Homo sapiens: one gene and its partners. The protein of the gene in region 2 interacts with the protein of the main gene of each other region in a pairwise test. Each region holds a gene or a part of one and is shown on either strand. Other genes may lie near its edges.

Region 1 (7,153 bases), on a different chromosome or scaffold from region 2:
ATTCTTTGTTTTTATACTGTGGATGGCTAATCACTTAAGAGCAATGCATTCAAAAGTAAGTCCAAAGCATTACAAGTTGTTTCCACAACAGTCAATGGTTAAGACCAAACTTGTAAATTTTTTTTTTAAAAAAACACACTCAAAATGCTGAATGAAATACAAATAGACAAGAAATCGATTTAACATAGAGATTTAACCAAAGACTGTAATAAGGGGACCACCTGGAAGGTGGACTCTATTGAACAAAAGTTAACAAGAGAAGCCAGCTGAAGGAGGAGATAGCTTTCAGACAGCCACGGAAGGGAATGCTGCCTCACATAGGAAGTCCAAAACAGGTCTAAGCCATGCCATTTTCTGACTACCACTGCTTATTCCTTAGAAAGAGAACCAACCACCACAGCAGTGTTCAGCAAAGCTCTCCTACATTCCAAATCTCCTGGTGAAAATACCACACTCAGGACTGGGAGGGCAGCCCAAGCAACTGCAACGCACCCTCTTCCCAGGATCAACAGCACCGCCCAGGCACCCTACACACACCCTAGCTACATCAGGAAGCCACCCTCCACCAAGATCGTTCCTCACAGTCTTCAAGTAGATGGGGTCACCTCCAGCAGGTCATCCATAAGGAATCCTGCCTTTCCTGTCCGGGAATGGTCTGTGCAAGGGTTTGTACTTCCTTCACTGCTCTGTGTTTCCAGCTGGATCCTGGAGCACAGGGGCTGTGCCCTCCACTTCTTAGTTCCTAGTCTATGAGCCTGGCAGCGGCTGAAGCCAATATACAAACCAGTGAAAGGATGAAGTCTCTTTCCATGATGTCAGGTCTAGAATGGAAATATTATTAATTTCATGTCTCCAGGTTGAATATTTGTATTGGGGGTAGAGGGGAAGCAGGAAAGGACTTCCAAAGAAGAGAAGGTTAGGGATGGGCAGTGCAAACAGCTTCACTATTTATTTTAAAGTTACCAGAAGCACTTATATTCTCCACAACCTCTGCAGTACACCCAGATGGCCACATTCATATGGGGAAGCCATCAGGCACAGAAAGGAAGCATGTCATAGAGTCTGAAGCCAAACCAACCTAAACTCAAAGCCTTAGTTTCCTCATCTGTAAAATGGGGATAACTATGCCTAACTCACAACGTGATTGGATCGTGTATATAAAATTCAACATCTGGCACACAAAAAGCACTCAGGAGATGGAAACCATTTATCTGCTGTGTCTTATGACAGATGAATCCACGAGTATCAGATGGGCTCTCTTTGTTGACTAAAGCCAAGAGACCCTTGACAATGATCTCTTCTCCTCTGGACACACAGGGCTGGAACTCGCAGGAGCAGGACTGAGACGGGAGGTCCTAGGTTAGAGTAAGGTGTTTGCACTAGCTGTATACTGCCTAAAAGAGACTCATTCTGTCACCCCAACCCTGGTTCCACCCAGCTATGGGAAATCTCTGCAGAGGCTTCAGGTGTGGATATGTCTATGGGCCAAGAGCGGGGGTGGGAGGCAGGGAAAGTGATGACTGTGACCTTGAGCAAGGCACTTCTCTGCCTTAGTTTCCTCTTTGGTAAGCAGAGTGGACCTGTTCCATGATCCCTGAAGTCCTCCCTGTGCTTCTATTGTACCATCCCCTCTAGGGCACTGGTTATAATTCTCACAGGTCCAAGGGACACCTTCAAATGTGTTCCAATTCCTCCCAGCCACTGAGTAGCCCTTTGGCCCTGCTCCCACGAGAAAGGAGGATTCGGAGCAGCGTTCACGGCTTTCTGGTTTTTGTTCTGTGTGCAGCAGCTCTCCACCCCTAGCTGCTCCTTCCACCTTTCCTTTTCCGCCTCAAAGTGGTCAAGTGCCTGTGCAGGGGCAATCGCTGGCCTGCAGTGTCAGCTCAGAGACGGTTTCCAGACCATCCTGTGTACAGGCTCAGGGTGGACAAATAAACATTTTGGAGAAGCAATAGGAATTAAATCATTTCTTCCACAACAAAACCCTTATGCTTCTTCATAAATCATGCCTCTTCATTCCATACTGATGAACAGTCACTAAATTGCATCTGTTATAAAAACAGCCCTTACTCCTTTCATGCCCAGACACTTAAGAATCAAAATATTTTCACACTCCATTGTACTAATAATGCCTTGCAGAAGTAATACCAATAGCTATTTCCCTGGAAAGATCCGTGGCCAGGGCGCTTTCCAAGAGGTTTTCTTTGAATGTTCTTTGTGTCCTGCTGTACGGGGGGACACGGCCGGCCTGCCCGCATCTGGGGGACGCTGGGCTTGTCCCGGTAATGCAATACTCTTTTAAAGCACACCTCGAATCCACCTCTTCGCCCCGACAATAAAGTATCTCAAAACATTCGATATGCCACATCATACAGCCTTGACAAAAAAGCACGCCGGTGCCTGCATTCTGCAGGAAAAACCAGGCACATTCTGAGATGAAGCCACCAGACCCGCTTCGGGTTCCATGGACAAGAGAACAGCTTTGCAGACCCCTTAGCAAGACCGGCCAGAAGCCGCTCGCTTGTTCGTTTTAATTATTTATTTCCCCCGTGCCTTTATTTGTTGGGCCCCAGAAGAATGGCAAAGCATCTTCCAGAAAGGACGGCGAGGGAGCTGGAGAATAAAAGAGGATGGGCGGGGAAAGCCGGGGTTTTGAAAACAGCAGCGATAAAGGCAGGCGGGGTCGCGGCCGCGTTCCGAGGGTCTCGGCGGAGCTTACCTGGGGCGCACGAGGCCGGCCGGGCCAGCAGCAGCAGCCAGAGGCCAGGAAGCAGCAGCCCCGGGCGGCGGCGGCGGGCGCAGCGGGCGGAAGGCCGTCGGCCGCTCGGCCCCGGGGCCAGCGCGACCCCGGCGCGGGGCTTCCCCTCCATGGCCGCGCCTCGGCGTCGGCGCCGCGCCCCCGGCATTCCCGGCCGGCGCCCCGGCCCGGCCTCGCGGCTCAGCGGCTCTCGGGTCCGGGAGGGGCGGCCGCTGCGGCTGCGGCTGGGACGGGGCGCCGCGCACCGGCGCGGAGGGAGGCCGGAGAGGCGGGGGCGGGCCGGGCCGGAACCGAGGACAGGGGCGCCAGCCGCACGCCCGCCTTGCCGCTCCGCCCCCTTCGGAGCCTCGGAGCCGCTGCCCGGCAACGCGCGGGCCCGGGCGCGGGACGGCGAGCACCCCCTCCCGGCCGGCCGGACGCCTGCCTGCCTGCCTGCCTGCCTGCCTGCGGGGCGGCCGGGGCAGCGTGCGCGGGGCTCGGCGCGGCAGAGGCGGCAAGGGCGGCGAGGCGGCGCGGCCCAGCCCTCCCCCAGGACCCGCCTTCCGGAGGGAGCGCGAGGGGCTCGGGGGGCCTGGGCCGGGCGGTGCCGCCCCGACCCGCACCCAACCCCGGGTCCCGCCGCGCGTTCCCCGGGGCGCCCGGATCAGGGTAGGCCGGCAAGCCGGGGGAGGGGTCCTCTCGCCTCCCTCGCTCCTCCTCTCCCGCCGACTCCTTGCGGGCAGCAGGTGTGTGGGGCGCCGCGCTCTCAGGACAGCCTCGGGGCCGCGGAGGGGACAAAGCCAGACAAAGTCGGGCTCCTGCGCTAGAGCTCAGCGTGCAAGGCAGGGGCGAGCAGAGCGCACGCAGCTCTCCCCCGCCTTCCTGCCTTAAGAAGGTGCGGCCACCTCTGCGGGTCTTCGGGAAGCGACCCTGCGCTCAGGGCCTGGGAGGCCCGCGGGACCCTGCACTTAGCAGGCCTTGAGCAGGCGGCTGCTGAAGCGAATGGGCGTGGAGCTGGGGAGACCCGCAAGGCCAGGCCGTTTTAGGGAAAGTGGCGCTCCTGAGAGGTGGAGAGAATGCCCAGAGAGCGTTTGAGGGTTGGAGTCCGCGGGGGGAATGAGGAACGGGAAGAAGGGAGTTGACATCTGTCAAGTACCTACTGTGTGCCAGGCACGTCACTCTGAAGACGCCCCGTGGCTTCAGGGTCTAGGGAGGAGGAATTGGAAGTTTTGAATCGTTGCATCCCACTGGCATTGTTGCATCAAGCAGATATTAACGGTGTGTGTGGGGGACACTATCTCGTGCAGAAAAACTATGGCAGACAGCGGAAAAGGTGAATCATTACACTGGCAGAGGGATCCTCGCGGCTATTCAGTCGGGTTCCCCTGCCAGGCCCAGCCCTTGAAGGGGCTGCCCAGCCTTGCAGCTCCAACTCTTCTGGACTCCTTGCCCTTGGCGAATAGTTCTTCCTAAGAATAGGACAGGGGCACTCTTCTGTAGGTACACACCTGGTCCTTACAGGTGGGTACTTGAAACCTGGTAGTTTCAAGGAAAATGAGAATAAAGGTTAAAAAAAGCTTTTGTTGATGTTCCTGGTGTTTTTACACGTTATTGTAACCCCCCATCATACAGCCCCTATGTTTATTACAGTAACTGCTCCTGTCTCCCAAAGAGGGTTCTGCGTGCACACCCAGGTAAGTACCTAAGAGAAACTGCCCAGATATGTCTGGTCCCAGGACACCATGGCCATAGATCTGGGACCTCTTATTCACACACTTATCTTTATTCTCTGAACTCTCTATAACAGCACATTTGACCACAAACCACTGCCTTCGTGCAACTCTTGAATGGTCTTGTCCTGTTGTGTTGTTTTATCTTTTATGAATTTATGCTTTGCACACACAGCCCCCACCCCACCTCCAATAAATTAATATGAAATTCAAATATGGTGCTATCCTGCTTAGGATTTCTCATAGCCCCAGTAAGCCCTCAGTAGACAATCGTTGGTTTGAGCCAGAGCATGCATTCCGCCCGTGAAGAGGTTCCATCTTCAGATTTGGCCTCAGCCTCCTGCAAGCTGCCATCTACACTAGACCCGTTGGTGTCAGAGAAAAAAGCCTCCCTCGGCCATGCGCGGTGGCTCACGCCTATAATCCCAGCACTTTGGGAGGCCAAGGCAGGCAGATCACCTGAGGTCAGGAGTTCAAGACCAGCCTGGCCAACATGGCAAACCCCGTCTCTAATAAAAACACAGAAAAATTTACCCAGGCATGGTGGCACGTGCTTGTAATCCCAGCTACTCAGGAGGCTGAGGCAGGAGGATCACTTGAACCCAGGAGGCGGAGGTTACAGTAAACCAAGATCACGCCACTGCACTCCAGCCTGGGTGCCACAGCAAGACTCCATCTCAAAAAAAAAAAAAAAAAAAAAAGGAAAAGAAAAAAGAAAGGAGTCTCCTTCTCCATTCTCTGCAAACTCAAAGACAATAGTGTTTGCCCTGCCATTAAGAGATTGATCAGCTGGAAGTAAAAATAAAAATTGGAACCCTGAGATACTAGAAATGACTCATGGACACCAAAGTGTCCGTGGAAAGTGAGGTCCCTAGGGTCCCTTAGTCTCCCAGCTCTGAAGGCATAAAACAAAATCTTACCTCTGTTAGGATTTAAGGCATTCTGCCTCCATGTCTGGGAAAATGTCTACCAGGCTCTGACAGTCCAGCTGGTAGGTGGTGTTACTCTGCAGACTCAGAGGGGATGAGTGGTCCTTGGAGGTAGGGGAGTGTGTGCAAATGTGTGTGTGTGTGTAAGATTTTAAAATCGATTTTAGAGATCATCTCATCCAATTCTCATAGATAAAGAAACAAGCCAGAGAGGTTAGTTTATTTCCATAAGGCTCAACTCCAACTGGAATTGTCGTCTCCAGTTAAACCACACACCCTCCAGGGGAGGGGGAAAATTAACCTGGGTCCTCGATAGGCTTACAATCTGGTTTGGAGACAGGGAGAGGTAGGCTCAGTACTATCCTTAGACCTAGACGAAGCGGGCCCCACTCTGGCCTTCTCAAACTGCACCTCTCTCCTCAGGACAGAGTCTGTGAAGCCCAGGAAGCACCCTCACCAGCAGCCCATCTTCCCATGCTCAGGTGCCCAGGACCCCAGAATCCTGCCCATTTCACCCCAGGCTCATCTTCAGGCCTATGTGGCCTCTTCCTCAAGTCCATTCTCCCAAGGCTGCACCAAGGGTGTGTCTGGTCCCACGGGGTAGTTGTTTGCTAGGGAGTGGCAAAACTTACGCAGGAGGCATCTCTAAAGATGCGCACATGAAACCTATAGGAATGAAGCAGAGGACCAGGGATGGGAAGAGAAGATCGGGCATGGCCCATATTCACATGGCAACCTGGCTGCGATGTTCTGCTCACAACTGCAGGAAGTCTGCGAATCCTGCCTGTGAACCAGCCTAACCATTCTGAAGACATACGTTTGTTAAGGTAGAACAGACATATTTAATAGTTTGCTTGCTTGGCATGTAACTTGCTGATGAAAATCTGGTCATCGATGTGAAATGGCCAAAATGGCCAAATGTGAAATGGGCTGCGTGAGCCCCTATTTGCACTCTTGACCTGGGCCCCTCAATTCTTAGGGTCTGGATAAGGATGGGACAGAGGGACTGAAGTTAGAGGATGGCTGGAAGTCGGTAGAGGGTAGTGTGAGAGTCCTAGAATAGGAATCAGGACAGCTGAGTTCTGCGTTCTGCTCTGTCACAGAAAAGTTTATGAACTTGAACAAAATGCTTCACCCTACTCTCAAACCTCAAATGTTCTTATCTGATGATGGGCTTCACATGCCTACCTTGCTTAGCTGTGGGTTCGGTTCTTAAGAGAATTATACAAAATAAGATGAATGTTCACAAAGGTCATTCATTAAATTCAATGAATATTTTTTGAGCATGTACCATATGCCAGGCAGTGCAGTGGGCACTGGAGGTATAACGGTGAACAAAACAAAGGCCCTTCCTCGTGGAACTTATGTTCTAGTGAGAGGAGACAGGCAATCAGTAAGTGAGCCTTCGGCTGATGACAACAATTTGCAGAATAACAAAGAGGGAAAAGGAGTGAGGGAAGGGTCAGTGTTACTGTGTTAAATAGAATAGTCAGGGATGATCACCCTACTAAGGTGACATTGGGCCATGGGGATAGCTGGGGAAGAGGGTGTCAGGCAGAGGGAACAACTGTGCAAAGTGGAGAAGTAGCCAGAATAAACATTCAAAAAATATTTACTGAGTCCCTACTAAGTAAGCGCCCCGTAGAGTCATGTGCTAAATGATCAGTAAGATTAATTAGGCCGGGCACAGTGGCTCACGTCTGTAATTCTAGCACTTTGGGAGGCTGAGGCAGGTGGATTGCTTGAGCCCAGGAGTT
Region 2 (7,038 bases):
GCATGTCCCAGCCCCAGCAGTCACTTTCTATTCAACCTCATTTCTTTTTTTTTTTTTTTCTTTTGGTCGTACCTCATACCACTCTGTCATTTAAATAATGATAACGCTTACTTGACAGAATGAGCTGCGTGAAGTCATCAGCTTTAATGCAGCAGCTGTCTCATAGCTGTTTGGGTTGCTGAGCAGGCTTTTTCACCTAGTTAGGGTTTGTAGCCATTTTCTAGAGAGTTAAAGCCATGATGCATCTGACATCTAGATAAATGGGACACCAAACTATTTTGCTGTTATGCTCTTCAGCATCCCTTGTGTTGGATAACTGGCAGTTCAGAAACAGAGCCAGCTAGCCCAGGCGGTTAGACGAGAGCCCGGGGCTGTTGGGGCAGAGCCTCATCTGTCACTCAGCTTTGCATTCATTCTTCAGCCATGGAAGGCAGCCTGTCCTTTATGTGTGTCCCTGTATGTGCACCACTGATCAGGAGACCAAGGTGGGGGTTCTGTGCACCATCCCTGGTGGTAGAGGAACACTCACACAGCCTCTCAGCAATGGGTCTCAACCCCGTGACTGGCAAGTGCCCTGCCCAGCCTCAGGGCTGCTCAGGAACACTAGGTAAGGGTAGGAAATGTGGGGAAAGAGGTACCGAGGAAGCATTTCACCAGATGGGAGCCACTTAGAGCTGAGGATGTCCTTTTCTTTTCACAGAAGCACAATGATGACTTTGAGATGACGTCATTCTGGTTATCCAACACCTGCCGCCTTCTTCACTGTCTGAAGCAGTACAGCGGGGATGAGGTGAGTGGGGAGCCAGGCACCCAGGAGGCATTCCTGCTTCATCCAAATGTGGTTGAGAAGTGCTTTGTATACCCTCAGAGGTCAGTGGGGTCTTTGGAGCACCCTTGGGGACCTCAGACCGTGGGCACACCTTATCATGCCTCGTGGCTGGAAGCAGCAATAAGGCCAGCCACAGGAGACCTGCCTCTAGGAGGCCTTGATGAGCCCAAGGGGCCCCAAAAAGCACTCCTGGGTTATGTAAGTAGAGTCTGCATAACCCATGATCAATAGAGGCCCTGGGAGTCTCCATGAAACTCTTGTAACCTGACATTTCTGTATCAGCTCTAGAAGCCCCACTGCAGTGGATACTGGCAGGGAGCTCAGTTGCCTAGTGGGTCACCCTGTCTCCTAAGCCAACTGATTAATCTGTCCATTTCAAGATAGACAAAGATGGCCACAAGAACAGAGGCACACCATAATCAGAACTACGTGTGTGCAAACTGACCTGGAGGCCCAGCTCCATGCATTTATCCAAATTGGATTCCTTGACCTGAGGCCCAACTACTAACCCCATCACTTCACAATCCACACCGGACCTGTAAGGCCCAGCTTTTTCTGGAACTCACATTCCTAGCTTTGGTCCCTGAAAGAACTTCTCCCATGCTCTGCACTCTGCCCAATGACCTAGTAATATGTGGCTTGTTTCCATTCTAGTTTCTCTGGTGAGAATCCCAGCTTGTTCCAGATATGCCCGCTCACAGGTTCCTGTAGGTCTTCCAACTTTTCTTCCCCTTCCTTTCACATATCTCACCATCCACCCTTCCCAAGGTCAAGACATAGTGTAAACCAAAATAGTGCGACCATTTTTAAAGCTTTATTCCATCTTTTGTGCCAGAACCAATTTTGACAGACTCTTCTCCCTGGGTTAGTAAAAGGATATGCCCTTCCTTTCAGTCTTACCTTCTTTGCAGTTGGCTTGACGCCATCTCTCTCCTAAGAACCAGCACTTCATTTGATGGCCTGCTTTTATTATAAAAGAGATGGGCCAAAGGTTAAAGAAATAGCCATTTCAAACCCCATGACTTCTGTTACAAAATCATAATATCCAAGCATTTACTTGAAGCATAGAACTACATGTAATGTTATTTCATTGAGGTCCATCACTTTACCCAATGTTATACACATTCTAAATGGGAGGTTATATAAGGCTAGGGCAGGACCTAGAACTCCATTACATTAGGTTGTGGTTACATGTGCTCATATTCTCTGGGTCAAGAGCTGAACCACAGCATGACCAGATCCGTGTAGTCCAAATAACAAGGAAGAATGATTGACTCTATCTTCATCATTACAATTATCCCCTTTTCTGCCTGCTTTTTTTCATATTAAGATGGCTTTGTATTTGACACAGTACAACAGGCCTTGCTGAAGATGGTTGCCCTTTTGGGAGCACTAATCTTTTTGGCAGATACTGGTTTCCCTAGGCCTGAATGAAAAGGACATTGGTCACATGAGCCCTTCTGATATCAGCAGTTCCCTTAACTTACATGTGATTTCATCTGATTAATACAGAAAGCTAAGAGGACACAGTGCGGTAGCTATGAAATCACTTTAGTTCATCTATTAATTCTGATAACCAGTGATAGAATCTGTATAAAATTTCTCCTCATACAAGCGTATAATCTGGCCCATGGCCACACTCCTTTAGAGGCTGCACATCATCTAACATTTTAGGGGGACCTGATATATTGAGGAAAGCGCTGGATGAAGGGAAAAAGCAGGGATCCCTTTCTCTGGACCTGGTACCAACCTAGGTTTTGCTACCGTAGGGAAATCACTTCGCCTCAGGGATTTGGACTGAGCGATTCAGGCTTTCTCTCTCATGTTGAGTTTTTCTACATCCTTCAAGTTCAAGGGTCATCAATGAGGCCTCAAAGAACTGACAGGCTTTTGTAAAACATCATCTACATAGGGAGGGCCTGAGTAGGCCCCCTGCCCACCAAATAGATGACTAAAGTTACCAGAGCCCTGGAAGTTGTGCTGGGCCCAGCAGACCAGAGAACTCAGTAGTGCACGCCTCTCCCTCTGCAGGGCTTCATGACTCAGAACACTGCAAAGCAGAATGAACACTGTCTTAAGAATTTTGACCTCACCGAATACCGTCAGGTGCTGAGTGACCTTTCCATTCAGATCTACCAGCAGCTCATTAAAATTGCCGAGGGCGTGTTACAGCCGATGATAGGTAAGCTGGCAGCAGGAGAGCTACATCACTCATCATGGTGTCTGAAATGAGGGGAAGGCGTGGTCAGCACCCTCTGCCTTTCGGGAACCAGATATCTTAGCCATGACCTCCAGAAAGCCAGAACCTTCCAGTGAAGGCAGAACTGAGGTGTGCACATCATGCTTAAAAAGCTGTGAAAGTATTTGACACAGTGCAAGAGGCATAGATGACTTTCCCTTTATCTCTTTTTCTGTAATATGTTGTATTTTTTCCCAAATTTTAATACATAATAAATGTAAACTCAAAAGGTACAAATGCATATACAGTGAAAAAGCATAACCCTCTTAACCTATTATGAACTTGATTCATGGAAAAAAGCAGGAGTGTTCATGCGAAAGGACACAGCAGTCGGCACGATGCATCAGTATTTATTAGACACTTGCTTTGAACCAAGCAGTGTACTTGGGCACTGAACATGAAATCAGAATTGAGAAATGAGAGCAGTTACATTTTCAATCGGAAGAAAAATTATGTGTAGATGCATTACTCACTGTGCTCTGCAAAGGCTGGGAAGGAAAGTGTACCTGGACCTATTCATAATGCTTTCCCCAGGTTCTTACAACACAAGTAGGTTATGAGTGAATCCCAAGAAGGACCAATCTAGAAATACATTACTTGAAATGAGGTTCATTCCAAACCCTCCTTCCTGTCTGGAAATCTTTTTATAAGGCACCAGACAGAGGGAGAACTGACATATCAAGCTGGAGATACTCAGAATAATGTGAAGGTTAATAGCAGCAGTTCTGGAGTCAGACAGACTTGGGTTTAAATCCTGGCCCTGCCACTCCCTATCAGTGTGACCTCAGACAAGTTATTTAACCGCTTTATACCTCAACTTCCTCATAAAAATGGGTAGTACTTTATAGAGTTGTTGGAAGATTGAAAGAGATACTGAACATAAAGCCCCTGGTGCATAGGTAATGGCTGCTTAGTAAGTATGACGGACCAATGAAGCTCTTATTTACATAGTCAGTGGCTGGACGAGGATGACACCCAGGTTGCTCAATTCTCAAACTGTGGACTTCAGCACAGGCGATACCAAATCGAGCTGGTACATGCCCATCATCTTTGTCTAATTGCCAGTAAATTAAATGAAAATGCTGTCCACAGCTGTTTTATTCCATACAGAAATCAACACATTAGAAATTTTTTGCCAAATGTTATAAGTTCCTAAGCATGTCAACATTGCACACCTCTGGATGGTATCATTGCTAAAGCCCGGAGCACTAAATGATTTGAGTGGTCCAATCTTTGCATTGTTAGTGGGGAATGCAAGCTTCTCTAACTGTGCTTTTATTTCAGTTTCTGCCATGTTGGAAAATGAGAGCATTCAGGGTCTATCTGGTGTGAAGCCCACCGGCTACCGGAAGCGCTCCTCCAGCATGGCAGATGGGGATAACTCATACTGCCTGGAAGCTATCATCCGCCAGATGAATGCCTTTCATACAGTCATGTGTGACCAGGGCTTGGACCCTGAGATCATCCTGCAGGTATTCAAACAGCTCTTCTACATGATCAACGCAGTGACTCTTAACAACCTGCTCTTGCGGAAGGACGTCTGCTCTTGGAGCACAGGCATGCAACTCAGGTAAGGGAGGAGCACCCCCCAACAACACAGATAGAGTGGGCCCTCACTGACTGCAGCTAGAATCAGAACACAAGACTGCTGTTTCTAAAAATGAAATCCAAATCTAATTGACAGTCCTTGTCTCCATCAGTCTGTGACTCAAATCCATCACCTTTTTACCTGTTGGTGAAATCCGTCGAACACTGAGATGGTTGACTTGGTAAACAAATTAGTTCAAAGCTTAAAGATGTTGACATACTCTAAGTTAAAGACTGAATACAAAGCAGATAGGTCAGAGAGAAAACTCAATGAGTTAAGAGGCATGAAGGCTCACATAGAAGTATAAATACATTTGTGAATGTTAAATATAAATACTTACAATTCAGTATATTTAATGCCTGTTTTTCCCTGTTAACTTATGTAGACACTTCAGGTATTTCATCTTTGCTTGATTTTAAGTACCCACTCATTCATTTATTCATTCTTTATTCAACAAATAGTTCCTGAGTGCAAGGCACTTGCCATGCTTTTTAACCGTGTGAGATAAATAATGGCACTAGCTGCAGCGGGCCTGCAAAACACAACAGGTGTCCCCTTCTCAGTGAATTAGGAGGACCGGCTTAACATAGCTTGCTTTCTACCTATGGCTAAGGTACAATATAAGTCAGCTTGAGGAGTGGCTTCGGGGAAGAAACCTTCACCAGAGTGGAGCAGTTCAGACCATGGAACCTCTGATCCAAGCAGCCCAGCTCCTGCAATTAAAGAAGAAAACCCAGGAGGACGCAGAGGCTATCTGCTCCCTGTGTACCTCCCTCAGCACCCAGCAGGTACAGTCACTTTGCACCTCTGTCAACATGGTATTCCAAGGAAGCCCTGAGTCCATTCCAAGTCTGTTCTCGTTGGTGGTTATTTGTTAGTGTTGCACTCCCACCCTTTATATACCCCTAATGAGACAATTTTGAAGTGCAGCTGATGGGATATTCCTAGATGAACCAAAAACCATTTGGTCTGTGAAACAAGATGCCACAGATACTGTTTTCTAGTAACTCTCTATCCCTCTTACTCACTTAAAAAGATAAGGTAGCAAACTCACAAAACGTTAAGTTTAGGTAAAAACTTCTTTAAATATAATGAATTCTGGAATGTTTCTTACATAGAAATCCACAAATTTTCAGAAATTGGCAGCATCAGGTATTTGCTTTCTTTACAAATATAACTGTAAGAAAAACCTTTTCTTTAAAACTAATTGCAATATGGTCATATTTTCACTCACACTCATTTATATTGTTTTAAATGAAGTCATTAAGAACTTAGGGGCATTTAAGTGTTACTTTCCTTTTCCCTAAAAAATGTATAACCATGATTCAGTTGCCGACACATTGCCAGTCCCTGAAAGATAAATAACAAAATCCAAACTCAGTACAGAAAAACACATCTTAATATAGCAAAGTGAACACCTTTCCTTACCTCCTCTGCTTACTATTAAAATATTAAATATCTAACTCTTTAAAAAACTGCTTCCTTCTGTAAACATTTCCAGAAAGTCTTCAAACATTTTTCTTCTCTTTAAATACATTTCACTTAAAGTAAGTTTCCTTCTAGATGCAGCTGGCATTGCATTTGGGCAGTCTACTTCCACCAAACCAGTGGTAGGCAGACAAAAGAGTATCTCCTGTTCAAATACTCATTTGTAAACAATGTTGGGGGACAGGGGGTAGTTAGGTATTAAACAAGACCTTTCTCATCTAAGGTAAGATCTCCAGTACTCTTCAGAAGAAACCTTTAAATTACTAGTAGATATGAGGCTGAGGATTTCAGGCAACTGCATTCTAAACTCCTCATTGTGTATACCAATGAGCATAGTGGGGAGGGGCAGGTGGGTTTACAGGAGACATGAGTTCGGTGAGAGGGCTCAGATCCACCTGACAAAGCTGTGGGCTCTAGTTTCCTGGATGCAGGCTCCAAGTGTAAATGTCAGTCCAGCTCCATCTGTGTTGTGGGCCTTGTCTAAAGAGGATCATACTCTTGTACCAATGTCACATATTCTTTAAAGTTCAAAAGTTGTCTCATGTTCATTTAGCTCTGTGCTAAATTCCGTTTTTATCCCCAACAGATTGTCAAAATTTTAAACCTTTATACTCCCCTGAATGAATTTGAAGAACGGGTAACAGTGGCCTTTATACGAACAATCCAGGTGAGTTTTAAGATAGTAATTTTATAAAGTCCAGTCTACGACTATAAAGGAAATTAAAAATTTGGGCTTTAATCTTGCTTCTCTTTATTACTAAAATACTGGTTACATATATGCTGGGAGACCTTACATTCCTAGACTTTCTACTTAGGTAAACATGAACCGTATCACCCATGAGTAACTTACTGTTTACACACAGAAAACTCAACTTTTATCATCTCTGCCTCTCA
Region 3 (7,038 bases), on a different chromosome or scaffold from region 2:
CACCAGCAACACCTCCGGGGCCGAGCCCAGGCGCAGTGCCTGCTCTGCAAAGCTGCAGCTACTGCCGATGTGTTCCTGACCCTGGCGCAGTGTGTCCAGCTGGCTTTGCAACACCTGATGAGGGGTAGGGGAGGAGTGGGTGAGCAGACTGGCACAGGGGGAGTCTCTGTGATTACTGAAGTTGTAGCACTGTGGCATAAAATACAAGAGGGTGCCTGTGGACAGAGGACACAGATGCCCACAGCACCTACCGAGGGCATGTCAGGAGGCAGAATATCTAGGCTGGGGAATGGGGAGCTGGTGTGGAAGACAGAGGAACAATGGAGGCAATAACACCATCACAATGGACGATGGTAGGAAAGGGTGAACACAAGACACACCTTCTGTTTGGCCCCACAAATGGTCTCCAGGTCGCTGACCAGAGCCTGCTTGCGCTGCTGCAGTGCTTGCTCCAGGTCCTCGAACGCTGCACTGATCTGGGCCAGGGCCTCTGCCTTGCGCTCCTGCAGCTGCTGGCTGATGCCCCCGACTAAGGCAATTGCTGCGGACAGCTGTGGCAATCTGGAGGGGGAATATCTCATTCCAGAGTTGCTGAGGGTGGCTTTGCCGAACTTTCCCTTCTCCCTGGGGAACCTACTGCTGCCCTCATGGAGATCTCCTTCCTGAGACCTCCCTGAGACTTCCATCTCTGCCCTTCCCAGACCCTTTATTCCCCTCCCCGCCCGAGCTAAGACACCATCCCTGTGGCCCCACCAGCCCAGGACCCTGCCCAGTGCCTACCGGCCACGCACAGCCTCGAGCTGGCGCTGCAGGGCCGCCTTGTGCTGCTCCACCACATCCCTCAGCAGCACTGTGCCATGCTCACGATGCTCCCCGGCGCGGCACTCACCACACATGGCCGTCTCACAGGCCTCACAGTAAAACTCCATCGTCTGCGGTACAAGGACTCCAGTCGGGTAATGGCTAGACATCACACTTCTTTGTCCCCTCCCCACCTGCCCTCCCTGCCCCTCACCTTCTAAGTGCACCCCCTACCTGGACCACTAATCCAGAGCAGTACCCTGTCACCCAGCCACTCGGCACCCCCCAATGCCTCTCCTCCTCCTCCCACCCCAAGTCCCGGCCTCACTGGGCCTCGCTTGGGCCCACCTTGCCTTCATGGTTGGGGCAGGAGAGAGGGCGGCCAGCCACTACACTGAGGGGGTGGGGGTCCTCCGGGTCGTGGGCCCCATCAGGTGCCTGCTGCATTGCCTCCATGAGGCTGCTGATGAAGAAGTTGTTCTGCAGTGCCGAGACGCCCTGCTCTGGGAGGATGGACGTCTGCCGGCATACTGGACAGGATAGCGTCAGGCTCTGGGCAGGGATATAGTTTTGGAGACATCTGTCCAGGAAGGAGAGTCAAAGAACAGAGTGGGTGGGGTGGCATAAGTGCACCCTTCCTTATACTTCCCATGGGTGCCAACCCCTTCCCTCACAGGTGTGCCATTACACTTCATTTTAAAACCTCTCTGCTTGACACATCTCATCTGCCAGCAGGTATAATGGCCTTGCCCCTTACAACTGAGTAGGAACACACCCCGACCCCTCTCAGAAGAGCAGACTATCCACATTCCTCACAGTGTGCACACAGGCTCACCTTTCACAGGTGTTTACAAATGCTTCTCATAGGAATGTGCAACTAGGCACCCCCTGCCCAACTTCTTTAACTCATTAACACTACTGTCTACTCTTGCCAAATTTATGCCAAGCCCTGGGGACAAAAAGATAAAGCACAGTGCCTACCCTTAAAATACTTCCCATCTACAGAGAAAAAAGTCACAGGAATAGTACAGAAGTAAATAGCATGATGATTAAGGGAATGGGTCCTGGAGCTAGGCTGCCCAGGCCCAACACCCCGTTGGTCACCTGTTATACTGTATGACCCCTGACAAGTTACATAACTTTGACAAGCCAAGGACTCTTCCTTTGTAAGATGGAGAAGTACAGACTTCACAGAGTGTTAGAGGATTACATGTAAAGTACTTACTTATATTTGAAGAGGATTAAATGTAAAATGCCTGACTCATAATAGCACTATATATGGTAGGCTACTTGTATTACTTATTATTAATATAAGGAATGATAGAAAGTGATAAGGAAATGCATCTGGCTCAAGCAGGTGGAGAGGGTGTCCAGGAAAGTCTTCAGAGAGTTGATGCAAACTAAATCTTCAAGGATAAATAATTGTTAGCCTGACCAAAGAATGGTGCAGGCAGAGGGGGAAGGGTAGTCCAGATACAGAAGGCAGCAAGAAGCAGCATAGTATGAATAAGCAACTGTAAGCAGTTTGATGTGGCTGGCTAGAGACAAAGTCCAAGGCAAGGAATGGTGACAGAAGTCAAGGAGCTTAGAAGTTATCCTGCCAGCAATAGGAAGCTGCAAGAGAGTGGTATAGCCAGGTTTATATTTTACCAAGCTCCTCTTCACCCCCTCTGTGTGGGGAGTGAATTTAAAGGGAATGAGACAGCAGATGGGGTTGGGGGGCGAGGGCAGTGGCATCACCAGCTAGTTACCATTTATTAAGTGCATATGTGCCAGGTGCCATGCTTTCTGATTACGTTTCTGTTAGCAGGAGAAAGGGCAAGTGGCCCAAGGTAACAACAGCAGTAGGTGCTGAAGCCTGTCTTCAAATGCAAAGTATGTGCTTAGCCAGCATACTCTTACAATCATCTAGGTAGGAAGTGAAGAAGACCTGGATTTAGGCAATAGTAATGTAGACTATGAGGTGGAAATAAATTTGAGAAGTGTTTAAGAAGGAGGGAAGGTGGGAGGTGTTGTCTGATTAGATATGGGGAGCAAGAGAGATGATGAGTCTTCGCTGACTTCCAAATTCCTAGCTTTGATAACTGAGTGGATAGTGGTGACATTCACTAAGATGAGAAACATAGAAAGAGGAGTAGCTATAGGAAAGTTCAGCCTTGTCCTGGTTGAATTTACTGTAACAATAAACACCCAGGTTGAGGTCACCAGTAGACAGGAGAATGAAGGTTAGAGACAAGAGATGGGCATGCCATCAACATTTAGATGGCTTCGGTAGCACTGGGAGAGGATGAGATCAGACAAGAAAGCATAGACAGTGATAAGAGAGAGGGACAGAGCACTTAGCAAAAACTGAATGAGGACAACAAAGAAGACCAGGCCGAGAGGCAGGAAGAGCAGCTGTGTTAGGGCAGAAAACTGAGTGGTACATTTCCAGGAGGGAATGAGTAGTCATCAGCGTTAAAAGCAGCTGACGAGTTGGGTAAGGTAAGGACAGGAAAATGTCCACTGAATTTGGCAAATGTGAGGGTACTTTGTCTGTAGGGAAAACAGGGAGGGAGTGGCAGGAGAAGGAAAGCTTGACTGCTGGAAGTTGAGTGAAGGGGAGCTTGAAAGTTCCAATGAGGAGCTGGTTGAGGGGTTGGATGGTGCTAGAAAGAGTTTTTACCTGTTTGGCATGGGAGTTTTGAGCATGTTTATGAATGGAGGAGTCAGGAGAGAAGGAGAGGGGGAAGAGACTACAAAACTGAGAGGAGAAGATCTTGAGGATTGGGGAGTGCCTCGGATTGGCCTGAAGAGGAGGACTGGACGTCAGTCTCTGAATGGAGGGAAGGAGGAAAGGAGAGGAGGATATAGAGAGGCACTAGGGACATAGGAGAGTGAAGGATGGAGGATTCAGGGGCCTGATGATGGCTCAGATTAGTCAGTGATGGGAGAGCAGAGGACACTTACTAGAAACAGACATCAGAACTGAAGGCAGCTGTATTTGGGGACCTCAAATTTGTGGAGTGAAGATCTGCATTATGCAAACTCTCCCATATCCTCAATCTCAACTCTTAATGTTTCCTATAACTTAGGATCTTAATTAAAATCTGACAAACACTATGTGCCAGGCATGATTCTAAGTGCTTCACAAGTATTAACTTATTTAATTGTGTTTTCTTTGTTTTTGTTTTTTTGGTGGCTTTTTTTTTTTTTTTTTTTTTTTTTGAGACGGAGTCCTGCTCTGTCACCCAGGTGTGAGTGCAGTAGCACAATCTTGGCTCACTGCAACCTCCACCTCCCGGGTTCAAGCGATTCTCTTGCCTCAGCCTCCCGAGCAGCTGGGATTATAGGCTCACACCATCACGCCTGGCTAATTTTTGTATTTTTAGTAGAGATGGGGTTTTGTCATGTTGGCCAGGCTGGTCTCAAACTCCTGACCTCAGGTGATCTGCCCGTCTCGGCCTCCCAAAGTGCTGGGATTACAGGCATGAGCCACCATGCCCAGTGTAACTTATTTAATTGTGACTTACTTTTCCTTGCAGTCCTCTCAAGTAGAGTGGTTTCTGTCTCATACTCCACACTCCTTAGGGCCAGAAGGTGGGCTTGAGCCCTCCCTCTTCCCAACTGGAACATTTCTGAACTATTCAACTCTAGCTCCTTTGAAGCTCATGCCTTCTATCTCTATCACTCCTCCTTATTGTTGTCTCTGCTAACCTAATGGTTGCCCCCACTTCCAATTGTGGACATCTTTCTCTTGGCTCACTCTCTTCTTCCATTACCCCCCGCACCACTCTGCCATCATTCTCAGTGGCACTAACATCCATCCCCCATTGTGATTTCTTAATTCCTTGACCTTCTCACCCCCAGTGATCTTTTCCCCCATTTCCCATGCTCCCACTAACACCCACTTCTCATCAACTATCACTGCATTTCAACCATTCTACTCTATTCTTCAGCAGCTTTCTTCCAAGCTCACTGAATCTAGTGTTTCCCCATGCAAAACACCTTCTAATTCAGCAATATCCCCTTCCTATTTGTCAAGTGTACCTGGCTCACGATAGCTTCCTAACTGGTCTCTGTTTCCACTCTTGCTCCTTTATAATCCATTCTCTCCATAACAGCTAGGGTGAACTTTTTACATTACATTATTTCCCTGTATATATATATTTTTAAAAACTCCAATGGTTTCCCATTGCACTTAAAATAAAATCCAAACACTTTCTGAAAACCTACAAGCTCCCCCTTAAACTGCCCTTATTCTCTCCAATTTCACCTCATCCCACTTTACTCCTCACTTGGCCACACTGGTTTCTTTTCTGGTATCTGAACATGTCCTGTCTACTTCTTCCTCAAGGCCTTTGCACAGATTTTTCTATTGCCTGGAACAATCTGTCTCCTTCTTATCCTCAGAACTCAGGTCAAATGTCACCTCCTCAGGGAAGCCTTCCTTGATGACTATATAGAATAGTTCTTGCCCCAAACACCCCTACTTCTCTCTGTTTATATCCTGTAAAACATTAATACAAGCTGCAGCTCTCGTTTTCTTGATTGCTTACTGTCAGTCACTGCCCACTAGAACATCCTCTGAGAGCAGGGACCAAGGGATACATGAATGAATACTAGTTGACAGTGAAGGCTCTGCAGTGAAAACTGGATTCAGATCTCAGCTATTTACTTACTGTGTAGCCTTGGAAATATTTCTTTTTTTTTATTTGTTTATTTAATTTAAGATAGAGCCTCTCTCTGTCACCCAGGCTAGAGTGCAGTGATGTGATCATGGCTCACTGCAGCCTCCACCTCCCAGGCTCAAATGATCCTCCCACCTCAGCCTCCCGATTAGCTAGAACTACAGGTGCATGCCACCACACCCAGCTAATTTTTAAATTCTTTTTTAGAGACTGCATCTCACTATGTTGTTTCCCAAGCTACTCTGGAACTCCTAGGCTCAAGTGATCCTCCCACCTTGGCCTCCCAAAGTGCTGGGATTACAGGCATGAGCAACTGCACCTGGCCAGAGATATTTCTTAATTATTTACTGACTTTGAACCTTAGTTTCCTCCTCTCTAATATGGGGATACCTGGGTGTGGTAGCCTGCACCTGTAATCCCAGCTACTCAGGAGGCTGAGGCAGGAGGATCACTTGAGCCCAGGAGTTCAAGTCCAGTTTGGGCAATATAGCAAGACACTCATCTCTAAAAAAAAAATAAAATTTAAAAAATTGAAACAAGCTGGGCACGGTGACTCACGCCTGGAATCCCAGAACTTTGGGAGGCTGAGGCGGGCAGATCACAAGGTCAGGAGTTCGAGACCAGCCTGGCCAACATGGTGAAACCCCATCTCTACTAAAAATGCAAAAATTAACCGGATGTGGTGGCGTGCGCCTGTAGTCCCAGCTACTTGGGAGGCTGAGGCAGGAGAATCACTTGAACCCAGGAGGCAGAGATTGCAGTGAGCCAAGATGGCGCCACTGCACTCCAGCCTGGGTGACAGAGAGAGACTCTGTCTCAAAAAAACAAAAACAAAAACAAAAAACAAACCAAAAAAAATTAAAATGAAAAGTTACATTAAAAAATTAAAATAAAAAAATAAAATGAAGTTAATAAAGTATCTGTTGCAGGGATTAAGGAAATCAGTATGTATAAATCACTTAGCCAGTCCCTGGCAAACAGTAAGCAATCAATACATGGTAGCTACTGTTATTACAATTTCTCAGCCAGATTTTCTCCAGGAGTGCTCAGTGATCTGGGCACAGGAGAAAGTGCAGAGACATCCAATTTCAGCTCTGATCCAACATTGAGCTTCTATTGCATGGGTTTTGCAAAGGATAAAGATGTGAAGGAACTGCAGGGGAGCCAGTCGGTCAGCCACAGGGTCCAGGATGGGCAGGAAAGACAGGGAGGCCAGGACGCAGCTGGTGACTGGGAAAAGAGGGAGCAGTCAAAGGGGCTAGATATCTATATTGTATCGAAAGTGGTGTAATGGGAGTGGGGTAACGGGAGCCAGGAGTGGAACGTTGGCGTTTATGACTACAGATAAGATTCTGGATTATAAGATTCAGGGCATGGTTGGGAGGGAGTGTTACTGAGGTGGAATGGGGGACAACCCTGAAGAAACAGTTAAGAACCAACAGGCACAAGAGGGTGGTTGTCCCCAGGCTGACAGAAGAACTTGAATGGACAGGAAAACTGAGGCCATTTCCAGTTGATAAAGGAGAGTGGGCAGTGGAGCTGGAATCTCAAAGAGCAGGGCTGGCAG

What was found. Proteins that work in one complex are often made in the same cells at the same time.
Region 1: the proteins of MYO5B (region 2) and KIAA1549 interact in a two-hybrid assay, tested with the Homo sapiens proteins (one study listed by BioGRID and IntAct).
Region 3: the proteins of MYO5B (region 2) and TRIM3 interact in binary tests that used the Homo sapiens proteins (3 or more experiments, as listed by UniProt).

The regions. Positions count from the first base shown.
Region 1 is NC_000007.14:138,978,364-138,985,516, forward strand, and holds the start of KIAA1549 (UPF0606 protein KIAA1549), read right to left. Parts: upstream 3,027-7,153; 5' UTR 2,907-3,026; coding exon 2,720-2,906; intron 1-2,719. UniProt on the Homo sapiens protein: May play a role in photoreceptor function.
Region 2 is NC_000018.10:49,835,117-49,842,154, reverse strand, and holds part of MYO5B (unconventional myosin-Vb), read left to right. Parts: intron 1-700; coding exon 701-790; intron 791-1,729; exon of another isoform or gene 1,730-1,792; intron 1,793-2,790; exon of another isoform or gene 2,791-2,860; coding exon 2,861-3,011; intron 3,012-4,352; coding exon 4,353-4,638; intron 4,639-5,269; coding exon 5,270-5,444; intron 5,445-6,730; coding exon 6,731-6,811; intron 6,812-7,038. UniProt on the Homo sapiens protein: May be involved in vesicular trafficking via its association with the CART complex. The CART complex is necessary for efficient transferrin receptor recycling but not for EGFR degradation.
Region 3 is NC_000011.10:6,456,916-6,463,953, forward strand, and holds part of TRIM3 (tripartite motif-containing protein 3), read right to left. Parts: intron 1,382-7,038; coding exon 1,150-1,381; intron 933-1,149; coding exon 781-932; intron 562-780; coding exon 381-561; intron 115-380; coding exon 1-114.